Linked DNA regions of Homo sapiens: region 2 is linked to region 1. Evidence: fine-mapped expression QTL. Tissue or cell type: whole blood. Region 1 holds a variant in brackets; the other region holds the start of a gene. All regions are shown on one strand. Distances are from middle to middle.

The links. PIP is the estimated chance that this variant, and not a neighbour inherited with it, causes the effect.
Region 2: it holds the start of AK3, and the variant in region 1 is fine-mapped to the expression of AK3 in whole blood (TOPMed, PIP above 0.99).

The regions. Positions count from the first base shown.
Region 1 is chr9:4,707,048-4,715,242 of GRCh38, forward strand. CDC37L1 (cell division cycle 37 like 1, HSP90 cochaperone) reads left to right here. Exons shown (of 7, transcript NM_017913.4): 7 at 1-1,352. AK3 (adenylate kinase 3) reads right to left here. Exons shown (of 5, transcript NM_016282.4): 5 at 2,509-6,049. The coding sequence ends at 5,929. Among named protein-coding and RNA genes, the nearest start is that of AK3, 30 kb to the right of the region's middle. The variant AAAT/A (reference allele first, on the strand shown) is at 3,706.
Region 2 is chr9:4,736,983-4,745,146 of GRCh38, forward strand. AK3 (adenylate kinase 3) reads right to left here and starts at 4,220. Exons shown (of 5, transcript NM_016282.4): 1 at 3,955-4,220. The coding sequence starts at 4,105. RefSeq lists silencers at 3,750-3,889, 4,120-4,609.

The DNA of each region.
Region 1 (8,195 bases):
TTTTTTTTTTAAAGGCAAGAGAAATCTTGTAGTGCTAACTGCCTTGAGCTGCCAATTACCTATTTCTGAGAATTTGGTGACTCTTATTGGTAATGATGGCATTTACAACATTTGGCATTTCCCCTTTTTCAGCTCAGTTACCATAGAATACTTCCAAGCTTTACTACTTCCTCTGTAAGTCATTTCAGTTATGCCAGGATATTTGATGATTTTGTTTATGTAGAATTAGGTAACAAAGCCAATTATGCTATCCTTATTATTGAAGGATTAATCTTATGACTTAACATAAGCTTTGGTTATATTTGGGTGTAGTCTTTGGCTAAGTACCCATTAAGGCTAGTAGCAAACACTTGGAAGGTGGCTAACTGGGACTGGGAATACGTGTCTCAACTTGAGAAACCAAATAGTGCGAAGGGACTCAGGGTGGCCAGACCTGTGACCTTGGCCTCATTTGTATCTTGTTTTCGCTGAGGTGATCAGACACTTAGTACCCTAGAAATGGACTGGAATTATTGAATCTTCTTCTGTAACATCACAATCTTCCTGGTTTTCAGAATAAACGTTTTTGTGCTTTTGATATAAATATATACTCTATAATAAAATGTTTGACTAATTTATATAGTAGTGTTTGTCAGCCTGTACTTTTTTTTTTTTTAAACCCATGACCTAGTCGTAGACATTTTTTTCTTTTTGTTCTGTTCTGAAGCAAGCTCTTATTTTTCCCTTTCTACCAAATTGAGAGAATGGGCAGACACAGGAGCCATATTCCTAGTTTCACAGAAATGTTACTTGAATTATTATTTTCCCTTCTTTCCCAGGATTTGCCTGTAAGCATTCAAATTGTTTTGAATTTCATTTTGCCTTCTCTAAGTTAGAGGTATTTAATGACTGAAGACTGGCAGGAGAGAAAGTATCAACAAACTGAGTAAACTATTCTTGAGGGGCACTGAAAAGATGTTCTTTGAAACTTGATTTATATATTTTTACTTGCAAAAGAATATACTGTGTTTTGAGTATGAAAGTGTGATTGGGTCTGTTGTGGGAACCACTGACTGATGCCATAATTTGCACTTAAAGGCTATAAATTACATAGTTAGCCGTACTTTAGTACTAGAAACAGTAAATTGACATCCTTGAACTAATTCCTACCTTTTTTTTGTTTCTGAAGAAATAAAGAGTATATTAAGCAAAGGGATAATTTATATTTCAGGTTGGACAATTTACCCTAAACAAATTAAACCATGGAAAGTGCAAACACATGAATGAAACATTTTTTTACATCAAAGTATCATCAAAGATTCTTGTTTCATTTGATAAAATTAATATTTGAATAAAAAAATTTTTAAATCAAATAGCTGTCCATTTATTCTCTGTTAACTCAGTGTCATTTTTTCAGTGGTAGTGAAGATAATACTGCCTTAAAATTATTACTCTTAGGTAGATGGGTAACATTCTCTTCCAATTATACCATTAGTGAGCTCTTTCAAATTTTGCCTAATGAGCTCACAATCTCTTATAACTTCTCTTTAGGAAAATCAGGTCCTCCTCTTCTTTCAGACTGGCATATCATATTATTACCCTTTTAAAAATGAATGAACAGCCGGGCGCAGTAGCTTACGCCTGTAATCCCGGCACTTTGGGAGGCCGAGGCGGGTGGATCCTGAGGTCAGGAGATCGAGACCATCCTGGCCAACATGGTGAAACCCTGTCTCTACCCAAAATACAAAAATTAGCTGGGCATGGTGGCGCGTGGCTGTAGTCCCAGTTACTCAGGAGGCTGAGGCAGGAGAATCGCTTGAACCCCGGGAGGCAGAGGTTGCAGTGAGCCAAGATGGCGCCACTGCACTCCAGCCTGGCAACATCTAAAAATGAAAATGAACATGCTGCCCAAAGAACATGAATCTGTTTTAGTAAGTGGATTTTCTAACAGGATGAAAAAAGTTGACTGTAGGTTTAGGCAAGGTGATCCTGAAGTTAACCTTTGGGTATTTTCAGAGGAGAACGAAATGTCAGTTTACTTTTCTAAGTCAATCATGTATTTCAGTTCTTAAATTGGTGTGGGACAGAACCGAGGTACTTGTCTGGGTTGAGGTTGGGCTTTCCATTTCATGGGCTTTCCATTTCAATTTTGCCATTATAGCAAACATACTTTTAACAAAACCCTTAAATCCATCCATCTCTCATCTGTAATGGACATGTATATACAATTGCATAGTTCTGAGAAGTTGATTTATCTGAAAATTATTTGCTCACTATGTGAGCCAAGGGGGTCGGGAGGGGGACACAGGGTGAATATAAGTTCATTATGGATTGTTCACCATCTAATATGAAGTGAAACCATTCTCATAAGCTTTGAAGAATTAGACTTGTTTGATCTCTAAATATAGAAAATGATTATTAAAATTCCCACATCTTTCACACAGTTAACAGCATGATTCTTCATGTTATTTACACATCAGACATTTAACTTGGAATGCTTTAGAAAAAGATGACACAGTGCTGGACTGATTTACACTTAGGCATGACAGTTTATTCAGTGCTATATATGGAAAAATCAGTGTTTATATTATTTAGTGAGCTAAAAACAAATAAAAAGCAGGAGGGGGATAAGGGCTCTACAAAGCATACTGGCTTTTACCAGAAGCTTTAAGCACAGCTACACTATTTTAACTGTTTAAAAATTTTTTAACCATAACTTCCAAGATGAAAATCTTTAACTGCAAAGATAGAAAAGCTATTTCTACAGTTTATCAGGGCCTGAGGATTTATTTTTATTTTTATTTTTATTTTTTGGTCAATGAGAAGACACAACATATTCTAAAATACAAATTCTTGCTGTTGGTTGCAACTATAGCAATTTAACATAATTTGAGATCTATAATTACAATGATTTGTTGTTAGTATAGGGCAGTTTTGTCACAAGTTATGAGGATCCAAAATATCTTGCTAGAATGCCATTATATATAGCTGGGGGAAAAGTAGCCATAGGGTGGGGTTTAGAGATTTGAGCCAGTATTTAAACTATTTGAAATGGAACTGACAGAAATTTCTGGATGGTGCTAACAACTGCTAGTTTGCATTTCCCACAGTACACGCTGCTTACAAAAGGTATAGCAAAATAACTTTTACTCTATAAAATAAATCAGTTGAGGTGCTGTTCTCCCTGGCTTTTTTTTTTGAGACGGAGTCTCCCTCTGTCGCCCAGGCTGGAGTGCAGTGGCACGATCTCAGCTCACTGCAACCTCCGCCTCCCGGATTCACACCATTCTCCTGCCTCAACCTCCCGAGTAGCTGGGACTACAGGCGCCCGCCACCATGCCCGGCTAATTTTTTTTTTTTTTTTTTGTATTTTTAGTAGAGACGGGGTTTCACCGTGTTAGCCAGGATGGTCTCGATCTCCTGACCTCGTGATCCGCCCGCCTCGGCCTCCCAAAGTGCTGGGATTACAGGCGTGAGCCACCGCGCCCGGCCTCTCATTGGCTTTTAACAAAAGTATAGTAGTTTCTCCTAGCCATGGCATTCAGCTCCATACATGTATTTCCATGTGGTACATAAATCTTAATGATGGTCATTACAGAATTATTTTTTTGGGTGGGGGCAGTGGCTTACACCTGTAATCTCAGCACTTGGGAAGCTGAATCAGGAAGACTGTTTGAGGCCAGGAGACTAGCCTGGGCAACATATCGAGACGCCGTCTCTACAAAA[AAAT/A]AAAATTAGCCAGGCATGGTGGTACATACCTGTAGTTTCAGCTACTTGGGAGGCTGAGGTAGAAGAATTGCGTGAGCCCAGGAGTTCAACGTTACAGTGACCCAATTATGCCACTGCACTCTAGTCTGGGCAACAGAGTGAGGCCCTGTCTAAAAAAAAATAAAGAAAAAAGTTGTATTACAGTCATATTCATTCCTAAAGTAATGAATGTATGTGCAAAACTTTGGGCTAAGTGTTTGCGGGTGGGGAGGGAATGGTCACAGGAAATAAGAGTCTTAATTCTCATAGCCATGTTCTTCCACTGCTCACTTTGATTTCCAAATCCCCTAAGGGTATTATGAAGGCCGGTATGGCTACCATAGCAGGAGATGAAGTATTGCATAAACTGAAACCAGCCTATGGACTGTTTTAAGATCATTTATTAGAACAGTCATTCAGAAGCCATTGAGACATCAGGCAGCAGAAAGGAAGGTGGGATGGAGCAGGCCCTGTGAAGGACCAAGAACAAAGTAATAGCCACAGTTATGAAATTTCATTTTATTCTGATAAAGACTAATATATGCTTGATAACCTAGTGATAATCCATAAGTTTGGTATTTCACAACATTTTTTAGAAAGCACATAAGATTAACATTCAAATAAGGCATTATAGAAAGTTTTATAAAGAATGAAGTGTTTCCTATATTTCTTTTAAAAAACCTTGGTTCATCTTGAAAGATCGATGAATTTTTTAAATATCAGAAGAAAAGGGAAATAAAATTTTCCCCCCAAAACACATAAGAACCACTTACTGGCACTTGTATTTTAAGTACCTGGGAAAAAAACGGAACAGATTTTTAAAGGCAATAACGACTTGTAAGACGGCTTGTTTCATTTGATTTGGCACGAAGTAAAGTAAGAGTAAATATGCCATGGAAGACATAATCAAGTTTTTCCTCCATCTCTCATATTTCCCCACTTCTACCAGACCACACAGTACATCAGCAACCATCCTTTAGATTCCAATTTTTAAATGGCTGCTCAGACGACACCAATAGAGTTCTTTCTCCTTAAAATATGGTGGCAGTGAATGCTAACAGGTATCAATTTCTTTGATCAGGAACAAAGAACTCCTTCAGGAAACTCACTTTCCTGGTCCTTGTTAACCTATCATGTAAATTCTTTTTATTGGTACACCTGTTTACTAATTATGATTGATTGCTATTTATGCCAAGGGAGCATTTCCCAGGCATGCCTCATCTATTTACTAACAACAAAGTATGCTTACTTTATTTACATAGTGCCACGGGTTTCTCTTTTTTCTTCTCTTTTTTATTGGCGGGGGAGATGGTACTATAACTTGTTATTTATCAGGGCAGATCACACATTTGGATCAAAAAGAAAAACCAGCAAGTAGATCCTAAAACACATTTCTTAACCTGAGTCATAACTGAAAACATAGACTTTAATTACATTTTGTTGAAAATTCATTCAACTTTGGTGCTTGTAAAAGCACTTATGTCAATTTTTGACACAAATCATAACCCTCAGTACACAGGTATTTTCAAAGGAAACAAGTCATCTTAAAGTAATATTTTTCTATATGCTAATTGATACATCTTTATAGCAAATTGAAAATTCTGAGTAAACTGAAAGTATGCTTAACGACAAAATAAATACAGCATATATGGTTAACATATACATTTCTTAGTGTAAAGGCAGCAGTGAATTTGTGTCTCACAATAAATCTGTAAATCCAGTTGCTTTCTTTCTGGAATTTTATATAGTGTCTCACCATGTTCCACAATGCTGGAAATGTCTTTTTTGGCATCAATCTATGCACAAATTTCTGATTACGTATTTTCTCCAAATGACATGTAACTTTTTTTAACTTTTCCAGAAAAATATGGAAACTTTATCAACCACTTATTAACTGAACAAAAAGTTAGATTACTACCAAATGCTCTTTTAATTTTGCTCTAACAGATGTTTTAAAGGTTCAGACATCGCTGATGTTTTTGAGGATAACTGCATACAACACACTAGATGATTTCAAACGATGCATCTTAGTATCCGAATCATTTGGCACATCCTTAGTATCCAAAATAAAATCAGTAGAAATAAAAGTAATATAATTTTCAAAGAATTCATACATACTAGAAGTCTTAGGAAAAGCAGCTTCTAAATGCAAGGACTAGGAGGTTTGCCCATCTTACTATTAATAGTTACACACATTTCTCCTCATGGAGTAACTGAAGCTTTCTGGCTTCTTTGTGGAACTTTAGTTTGTAGGAAAGCATATACATAGGGCCAAATCTTGTTGGTTTCTGTTCCGGAGAATGTTTCCAGCACCCCTTTTTTCCTAAAGATGAAACAAAAACAAAACAAACACACACAGGTCTGAGTCTTCCTAATAAGCTCTTTCAAAGCCTTTCTGTAAATAATGATATTGTAGATATAGGAGTCTTGGTAAGTATAGATTTGTGTAATCAGGAGAGAAAGGCACTTGGCTGGGCATTGGAAAATGTACATTTTGGTTTCAGTTGTGCTCTCTGGCTTACAAAAATGGGTGCTTAAAAAAATAACAGCACCTATCATTTATTTTATTTATTGAACATGCACTGTGTGTCAAAGGCTGTGCTACATGCTTTACATATTATAGTTTGTTTAATCCTTTCCAAAGCTCAAATTTTCTTATTTTACTAATAAAATCATCCCTTTGTAATGTAACTTAGCCCAAATCACCAAGTTGGTAGTACATTTCCAAACAGGACCTATAAGATACCAGAACACCCATCAGCCTTTTTTTTCTACTTACTCTTTTGCAAAAGCTACTTTCTAATACTTGAGTATCTTTCCTTTTTGCCCAGGCCAACATTTATGTTCTCCTCTATTCCACTCTTCTGAATATTAACAGAAAGGGGAATAAAAAGTGTTGGTTTTATTGGGTTTCCTATTGACTGTCTTCATTTCTTCCCAGGCAGATTTGTCTAGCTTGTCACTAGACCAGCAGCCAAAGTCTATTTTATTTACTCCAGTTTCCTGTGGATAACATGGTGAAGAGTGAGATCAGAATCCTGGGGGTGCTTTTCAAGCCACACAGATTCCCTCCAAAGATTCTGGCCTTCCTCTTGCTAATACCCGTCCTCTAGCCCATGCGTACACCTACGCCTACACATATACACCTCCACATATACACACCTCCACATATACACGCCTACACATATACACACCTCCACATTTACACACCTACACATATACGCCTACACATATACACCTACACATATACAGCTACACATATACATCTACACATATACACCTACACATATACACACCTACACATATACACACCTACACATATACACACCTACACATATACACACCTCCACATATACACACCTACACATATACACACCTCCACATACACACACCTCCACACATACGCCTCCACATACACACACCTCCACATATACACCTCCACACATTCGCCTCCACACATACACACTGGTGTAAAGACTGCATAAGGACAACCTAAGAACTCTGGTTTATGACTTTGTGAAAAGAGGATTCCTTATACCTGTGTGGCCCTTCTTCCGAGGTTTTCAGGGCTTTCACTAAGGACAAAAGCATTCTTCCCTTGATACCTCATAAAATTTGCCACAGTTAACTTAAATAACACCCACTGTTTTCTCGGTAAGAAACATCTGCTAAGGAAGGAAATTATGCAAATACAGCATTCTTGGGATATTAGAAACCCTCCTGCTTCTAAATTCACTGGCACCTGGTACTGCTTTCAAGGGAACAAGCTTCTTAACTGTTGTAAGCCTCTTGAAGAGCCGATTTAAAAATCAAGCCAGTGTCACAAGTGGGTTAATTACTGAGGGCACAATTGCAGGCACCTATTCGATCCTAAATCGTGGGTGAACATTTGTCATTTTAATTTCTGTGTAATAAAATGGAACCAGCTTCAACAATTGGTCCTCCAAAGAGTAAGGGCATCATGTTGTTTGTAAACATAGACCAGTTACTCTATAATGTCCCACAGCTAAAAGGTTTTTTTTAAAACAACCAACAATACAACTGTCAGCATTTCTAAATAACAATGCTGACTATTACTAACATTCTTGCAAATAAACTTTCAGTTTTTAGTCAAGTCTCGCTGAGTTCTACGTGTGGGAGCTGAGAATGAAAAGACTGAATTCGGCCGGGTGTGGTGGCTCAAGTCTGTAATCCCAGCACTTTGGGAGGCCAAGGAGGGTGGATCACTTGAGGTCAGGAGTTCAAGACCAGCCTGGCCAACATGGCGAAACCCCGTCTCTACTAAAAATACAAAAATTAGCAGGACATGGTGGCACGTGCCTGTAGTCCTAGCTACTGGGGAGGCTGAGGCATAAGAATCGCTTGAACCTGGGATGAGGAGGCTGCAGTGAGCTGGGATGGCACCACTGCACTCCAACCTGAGAGAGAGTGAGACTCCGTCTCAAAAAAAAAAAAAAAAAAAAGAAAGA
Region 2 (8,164 bases), 30 kb after region 1:
TATGTCTCTGAGACGCACTATGCTACAGTGCAGCTTTCTCAGACTAAGCAATCACACTTCAACCTCACGATTTCTACCATAGTTGAACTATTATTCACTATATAGTTTTTTTTACTATATAGTTCTTTACTATATAGTTTTTCTTTACTATATAGTTCTTTACTATATAGTTTTCTTTAAAGTGACTTAGCTTTAAAAATTAATAGCTATAATTTTCATGAAATACAGCTTTCATGTGCTAGATTTATGTCTGTTTCAATTCTGCTTTAAAATAAATAAAAAGTTTTTGTCTATCTAAAATGTCTATCTCATGAATCTCATCGTCTAATTCATGTCTATCTCATGAATCTCAATGTGGGAAATACTGCATAGAGAAAAGAGTATTTAACATGGAGAAATCTATGTTTTCACCCTAATCCCCCAATAAATACTGTTTACTATCAAGCAAGTTCTCCTGAACTCAGTCTCCTCATCTCTAAAAGAGAGGTCTGACTCTGAGAGGCCAAGGCGGTTGGATCACCTGAGGTCAGGAGTTCGAGACCAGCCTGCCAATACGGCAAAACCATCTCTACTGAAAATAAATTAGCCAGCCACGGTGGTGCAAGCCTGTAGTCCCAGCTACCTGAGTTCGGAAGCTGAAGCAGGAGAATCGCTTGAACCCAGGAGTCGGAGGTCGCAGTAAGCCGAGATCGTGCCACTGCACTCCAGCCTGGGCGACAGAGTGGGGACTCTGTCTCAAAAAAATAAAATACAATAAAAGAGAGGACTGGACTAAATGTCTTAAGGTCAGATTCAAGTTCCCTGACTCCAAGTTTCAGTGATGACCTACAGTTATTCCAGCTTTGCTACTGTCAATGAGTTGCCTAAAGTTTCCAGTGTCCTTATCATATCTCCTGTGATGATTTTAAACCTTAGCTATAAAATACAGCCATGGGTTATAAAATATAGCACCCTCATGAAACAATGACTGGAAACTAAATTGGCACAATCCTTCTGTTGTATTATTTGATAGTACCATATTTGTAGAAATTCCATACTAGGAATTTATTTGAAGGAAATAAGCAAAGATTTGCCAAATGTTTATGTGCAGGGATAGTCATAACAGTATTTATTACAACAAACAATAGTTAACAACATACGCGTCCAATAAAAATGTTTAATAACTATACAACTTTGATAAAATTAAACATCTTTTTTTTTGAGACAGAGTTCCGCTCTTTTCACCTAGGCTGGAATGCAATGGCGCCATCTCGGCTCGCTGCAACCTCCGCCTCCCAGTTTCAAGTGATTCTCCTGCCTCAGCCTCCCAAGTAGCTAGGATTACAAGCGCCCACCACCATGCCTGGCTAATTTTTGTATTTTTAGTAGAGACAGGGTTTTGCCATGTTGGCCAGGCTGGTCTTGAACTCCTGACCTCTGGTGATTCACCCACCTCAGCCTCCCAAAGTGCTAGGATTACAGGCGTGAGACACCCCGCCCAGCTTAAACATCATTTTTAAGACTGCTTAATGATGTGTGAACATGCTCACTATAAATGAGAATAAAAAAGTAACCTATCATTTAGAATATGACAATTTTAGAATACAACCATTTTGCAAATACAAATGCAACAGAAATAAAAAAGAAAAAGAAAAAAAAAGAATAAAAGAAAATGCACCCAAGAGTTAATTATAATCATCTCTGTGTGGCAAGGCAGAATTATGAGGGATCTTAATTTACCTTTTTTACATTTGCATGAAATAGATATAGTTTCCTTCTTTTATAATAAATATGCTTTACTTTTTTTTTTTTTTTTTTTTTTTTGAGACAGGGTATCACTCTGTCTGTCACCCAGCTTGGAGTGTAGTAGCACAATCTCGGCTCATGACAACCTCTGCATCCCGGGCTCAAGTGATACTCCCACCTCAGCCTCCAGAGAAGCTGGGACCACAGGCGCGAGCCACCATGCCCAGCTAATTTTTTGTATTTTTGGTAGAGACGGGGGTTTCGTCATGTTGCCTAGGCTGGTCTTGAATTCCTGACCTCAAGTGACCTGCCCGACTCAGCCCCCAAAGTGCTGGGATTACAAGCATGAGCCATTGCGCCAGGCCTACTCTCCTAGACTTTGGTTAACCTGACCCCAACCAGTAGCAGTATCTGGGACTGTTTAATGTTACCTAACTACTTCAGTATGTCGCATTAACAACATTTAGCAAGCAAGTCAAACAATCTCTGTTCTTTCTTTCTTTTTTTTCGAGATGGGGTCTTGCTCAGGCTGGAGTGCAGCGTTGCAATCTCGACTCACAGCAACCTCCGCCTCCCAGGTTCAAGCGATTCTCTCTCCTCAGCCTCCCGAGTAGCTAGGATCACAGGTGCCTGCCACTGCGCCTCGCTAATTGTTTTTGAATTTTTTATAGAGACGCAGTTTCACCAAGTAGCCCAGGCTGGTCTAGAACTGCTAAGGTCAAGTGATCCGCCCGCCTTGACCTCACAAAGTGCTGGGATTACAAGTGTGAACTGGTTAAATAAATCATACTAGATTCAGAAAATACATACTACAAAAACAGAATGAAATGGATTTGTCCGTTTTCATGTGAAATATATCCCAGACACAAAGTGAAACCACACTAGTGCAGAGTATATACACATAGTATGCTCACATATTACATACAAGAAAAGATACACGTTGGCCGGGCGCGGTGGCTCACGCCTGTAATCCGAGCACTTTGGAAGGCCGAGCCGGGTGGATCACGAGGTCAGGAGATGGGGACCAGCCTGGCTAACACAGTGAAACCCCATCGCTACTAAAAATACAAAAAATTAGCCCGGCGTGGTGGCATGCGCCTGTAGTCCCAGCTACTAGGGAGGCTGAGACAGGAGAATTGCTTGAACCCAGGAGGCAGACAGAGCAAGACTCCGTCTCAAAAAACAAACAAACCAAAAAGAAAAAAAGAAAAAAGGTACACGTATCTGCGCTTAAAAAGTAAACCTTTCTAGAAGGAAAACTCTGTTCCCCTCCGAAGAATGGGACTGAGGTAGGGAACGAAAGAGGGCGTTGTTTTTTATGCTATGCACGTCTATCCTGTTTGCTATCCTTACAAAAAAAAAAAAAAAAAGAAGGAAAACAAAAGAAAAAGGCCTTGTGGAAGCATTATTTCTATGTAAATGGGTTTCAAAATGAGTTTCAAAACGGGTTCTATTTTGAAAAGTAAGGTCAACATTTTTTGAGAAAAAAACTCCTGCGATTGGCTTTTCAAAAACAACCCTCTTAAGAGAGAATTTACATACCACAAATTCACCCATTGTATAGTGTAGATTGTTAACTGCCTTTCGTGCCGAGCTGTAAGAATTTATTTGGCATGAGAAACAAAATATTTTATAGAACCATGCACAAGAATAGCCTTCGTGTCTACGAAATCTAAGGATATCAAAATGAGATAATTTTATGACTGCAACAAGGGTAAATAATACTTGGCCTTGGGAATATGGGGGAAAGGTCAGAACTACAAGATCTCATAGAGCTTAACCACACCAAAAAAGAAAGAGAAAAGAAAGAAACAAAGAAAACAAAACAGAACGAGCAGACTCTAGCAGGGCTAATGACAGTCTTCCAAAGGCACCAGCACGTTGAACAAGCTGCGGCTCAGCTCGATGGACCCCCAAGAGTGGCTGCCACTGGGAGGACTTGGGCCTCTGAAACAAAGCCCGGTGGTTTCCTTTCATCTCTGAACTTCGAGCTCGACCTAACTTTCCAGTCCCTTCCCCCACCGCCACCCCATAACCCGCCCGAAGCGGCCCACGGAGGCCGGAGGTTTTGGGGCGCAGTCGCTCAGCAGCCCGAGGTCTCTGTCCCGGGCGGCGGGAGGGAAATGCCGCGCCCGCAGCCAGGGACCCGCGTGCCCAGCTTCGGCCCCTCGCCCGCGAAGTCCGACCCGGGTGACAGCGCACGGCCGGCCCTGGGCCCAGAGCTCCCACCTGTGCCCCGCAGCATGTTGTCCCGGAGCAGGTCCCCGCTGGAGAGGTGCTTCAGCTCGAAGTGTGTAGTGATGCGCGACGACACGGTGCCCTTGCCCGAGCCCGGGGCCCCCATGATCACCGCTCGCAGCAGCCGCGCGGACGCCCCCATGGCCGCAGACTGAGGCCCGCACCGCGCGGGTACCAGGGCTTTGGCCTGGCCTGCGCGCTCACCCGCTCGGCAGCCTGCGCCGGCCGGCTAGCAGCGCCACTAGCAGGCGGCTACTGCGGTTCCCCGGCGTTCCCGGAAGTGAGCCGACAGCCCCTGGGGCCGCCCAGACAGCGCGGGACCCCGCTGTTGCGTCCGCCTCTCGGCTACCCCGGCGCACCCCCCGCCCCCGACCGAGCGCCTGTTCCCGCCCAGCCGCGCAAGCCGCGCAAGCCGCGCCCCCTCTGCGCTCGCTCGGCCGCCCAGCTCCCACCTGCGCCTCTCCGCGGCCCCTCTCCACCGGCCGCTGGGCCCGGATCCCTTCGGCGCCCCTCTGCACCCACCCCCACGCGCCCTCCACTCGGCTCAGATCTACCTCCGCGCCTCTCCGCGACCCCGGAACCCCGCGCCCTGTCCGGCCCATTCCCAGCCGGATAGACCGCGCTCCCCTCTGTCCGACCTTGGCAACTCCTGCGCGCCCCCTCCCCACCTCTAGTCGCCCCTCGGAGCCGCTTGGTTTCGGGATCCACCCGCATCCACCCCTCCAACAACCCTTTCGTAGCCCTCGCCCCTAGTCCATAGCAGGCGCTGCCCTACCCAGTCCTTGCCGGACACACCGCGACCCCTTTCGTGCTCCCTTGACAACCCTGGCCCCACCTCCACCTGGCGCCCACTCGAATCCGCCCCTCCCTTCTACCCCCCTGGACCGCCAGACCCCCCGCTTCTGCACCCACTCCCGCCTTCGCCCTTCCCTCCTTCCTCCTCCTCCTCTGCTGCCGAGCGCCCTCTCTTCCCACTCCCTCTCTGTGTAGAATCACAGGGAGTGACCTTGAGCCGAGAGGGCCTACCTCATTTTACAGGAGAGGAAATCCAGCTTCCATTGAGTGAGACTCTTTTATAAATAACGTAAAAGAGTGTGTGAAACTGTGGAGGCAGGCTGTTGTAGATAGGCGGTCGGAAAAGCTTTGAAGAGATGGCATGTGTGCTGAGTGCTTAATTAGAATATGGAAGAGAGAGACATGGGCCCTTCCTATGTCCAGTTTTAGGAAAAGGCCCTAAAACTGGAGGTTTGGCATGTTTCAAGAATGGAAACAGAGGACAAAAACGTTCGAGTGAGTATCATTTTGCCTGTAAAATGGGCATAGAGGAGTAGAATGGAGGAGTTAAAATAATGTAGTACTTAGTGCAATGCCAGCTACGGGGTCAATGTTCAATAATGGTTGTCCATTTATCATCATTGCTTTGTCCCGGACACTATGCTAAGGCAGAAAGAAGGCTCTCTGAAAATAAAACACAGTTACCATTCTCCTCAGAGGTCCAGAACTGATTTCAAAGAAGATAGAAATGACTTCAGGGTGAGACAGTCAGTGAATCGTAGCTGAGTGAATGGATGGGGGATTTCAATAGGTAGACAGCCTGGTACTTAGAAAAGGCATTAGCCTTTATACTTTCTGGTGTGGAAAAGAAAGAAAGAAAATACATACCTTGTACATTTTTTTTTCTTTGAGACAGAGTTTTGCTCTTGTTGCCCAGGCTGGAGTGCAATCGGCTCACGGCAACCTCTGCCTCCCGGGTTCAAGTGATTCTCCTGCCTCAGCCTCCCGAGTAGCTGGGATTACAGGCACACGCTACCGCACCCGGCTAATTTTATATTTTTAGCAGAGACAGGGTTCCTTCATGTTGCTTAGACTGGTCTGAAACTCCCGACGTCAGGTGATCCACCCGCCTTGGCCTTCCAAAGTGCTGGGATTACAGATGTGAGCCACCGCGCCCGGCCTCGTTTTGTTTCTTTGAGACGGGGTCTTGTTTTGTTGCCCAGGCTGGAGTGCTGTGATGCGATCTCAGCTCACTGCAACCTCTACTTCCCAGGTTCAGGTGATTCTTATACCTCAGCTTCCCGAGTAGCTGGAATTACAGGCACCCGCCACCACGCCCAGCTGATTTTTATATTTTTCGTAGAGATGGGATTTCACCATGTTGGCCAGGCTGATCTCAAACTCCTGACCTCAAATGATCTGCCCGCCTTGACCTCTCCAAGTGCTGGGATTACAGGCTTGAGCCACCCCACTGTGCCCAGCAGGGCTCATACATACTCATTACTAAGCAAGAAAGAATGAAAAGAATGAAAATAAATGAATTAAACATTGAATTCATGTAATTGGGAAAAGGACATCAAAATAACCCATGGAAAGCAGAGGAAGGGATGAAGTAAACAACATAAATGAAAGGATGAGAAAACTTGAACAGAACTAACTAAAGAATGAGCAAGTCTGGACAAGTACAACTTATGCAATACTAGAAAATCTGAAGGTGTGGAGAAAGTACTTCTAATCTCCAAAGCTGGGAACATAGGAGGTTTCAGCTCCAAAAGAAACCAGAAAGAAAATCCTGGGGAAATTTGGTTTAGAAAAAAAAAATGTTCAAACAAACAAAAATAGCTGAGGAATCATCCTGTCATTGCGGGGATGAAAAGCTGAGTGTCGTGGTCATATTAACAGGCCCGCAAAACACCAATCAACTTTGGCTTTGCAAAAGGTTGTTGATTACAAATGAGTAACTGCCAGTCTGTGAAATCTCCTGGCAACTGTGCCTGGCATAGTCTTTTCGCCATTCACAGGCCTTTGTATGGATCTGTTCCTCACTGCCTACCTTGTTCCAACTGAAAAACACTGAGGTCAAATTCATTCAAATTCTAATTTAATGACCAAGTGTTTATACAGATTAGTTTGAAGCAAATAAAGCCCAGATGAGTGCTTTGCACATAGTAGGCACTCAGTAGGGTTTTGTTGATTAAATACTAAGAATTACTGTTTTGTCACTTTTGTTTGTTTGTTTTTGAGACGGAGTCTCTCTGTCACCCAGGCTGGTGCAGTGGCGAGATATTGGCTCACTGCAACCTCTGCCTCCTGGATTCAAGAGATTCTCTTGCTTCAGCCTCCCAAGTAACTGGGACTACAGGCCTGCACCACCATGCCCCGCTAATTTTTGTATTTTTAGTAGCGGTTTTGCCATTTTGGCCAGGCTGGTCTTGAACTCCTGACCTCAAATGATCCTCCTGCTTTGGCCTGCCAAAGTTCTGGGATTACAGGCATGAGCCACCATGCCCGGCCTTTGTCACATTTGAAGACTGAAATGTTTAAGTCTTCAATGTACAACTCTACAATGTACAACTGAGGGGGAAATGATAGGCATGTGTCATGGGTTGAATTGTATTCCCCCAGGAGATATATTGAAGTCCTAATCCCCAGTACCTCAGAAGATGACCTTACTTACACATAGGGTCTTTGCAGACATAAGTAGTTAAGATCAGGTCATAGTGGAAGATGGTCAGCTCTTAATCCAATATGACCTGAAAACATAGCAGGAGAATGCCATGTGACGATGGAAGCAGATATTGGGCTTATACAGCTACAAGCCGAGGAACACCAAAGATTGCTAGGGACACTAGAAGCCAAGAGAAAGACACAAAGCTGATTCTCCCCTAGGATCCTTGGGAGAGAATAACCCTGCCCTTACCTTGGCTATGAATTGTAGTCACTAGAACTGTGAGAGAATAACTTTCTATTGTTTCAAGCCCCCTAGTTTGTGGTAATTTGTTACTGTAGCTCTAGGGAACTAATACAGCTTGTTTCCAAGAAACATGTATATGTGTTTGTATGTTGCTTCACACTATGTGTTACCTAGGTGAGAACAAAAGAATAGGAGGGTTCATGTTTGAGAAATAATTACTAGGATTGTAGTGATTGTAGTAAGACAAAGAGAAGGAAGGTACATCAGTTATCCACTACTATAAAAATCCACTCCAGGCCAGGTGTGGTGGCTCACACCTGTAATCCCAGCACTTTGGGAGGCCAAGACGGGAGGATCACTAGAGTCCAGGAGTTTGAGACCAGCCTAGGCAACATAATGACACCCCCTCCTCTACAAAAAAAAAAAAAAAAAAGAAGAAGAAGAAGAACATTAGCCAGTGTGGTGGTGTGCACCTGTGGTCCCAACTATTTGGGAAGCTGAGGTGGGAGGATT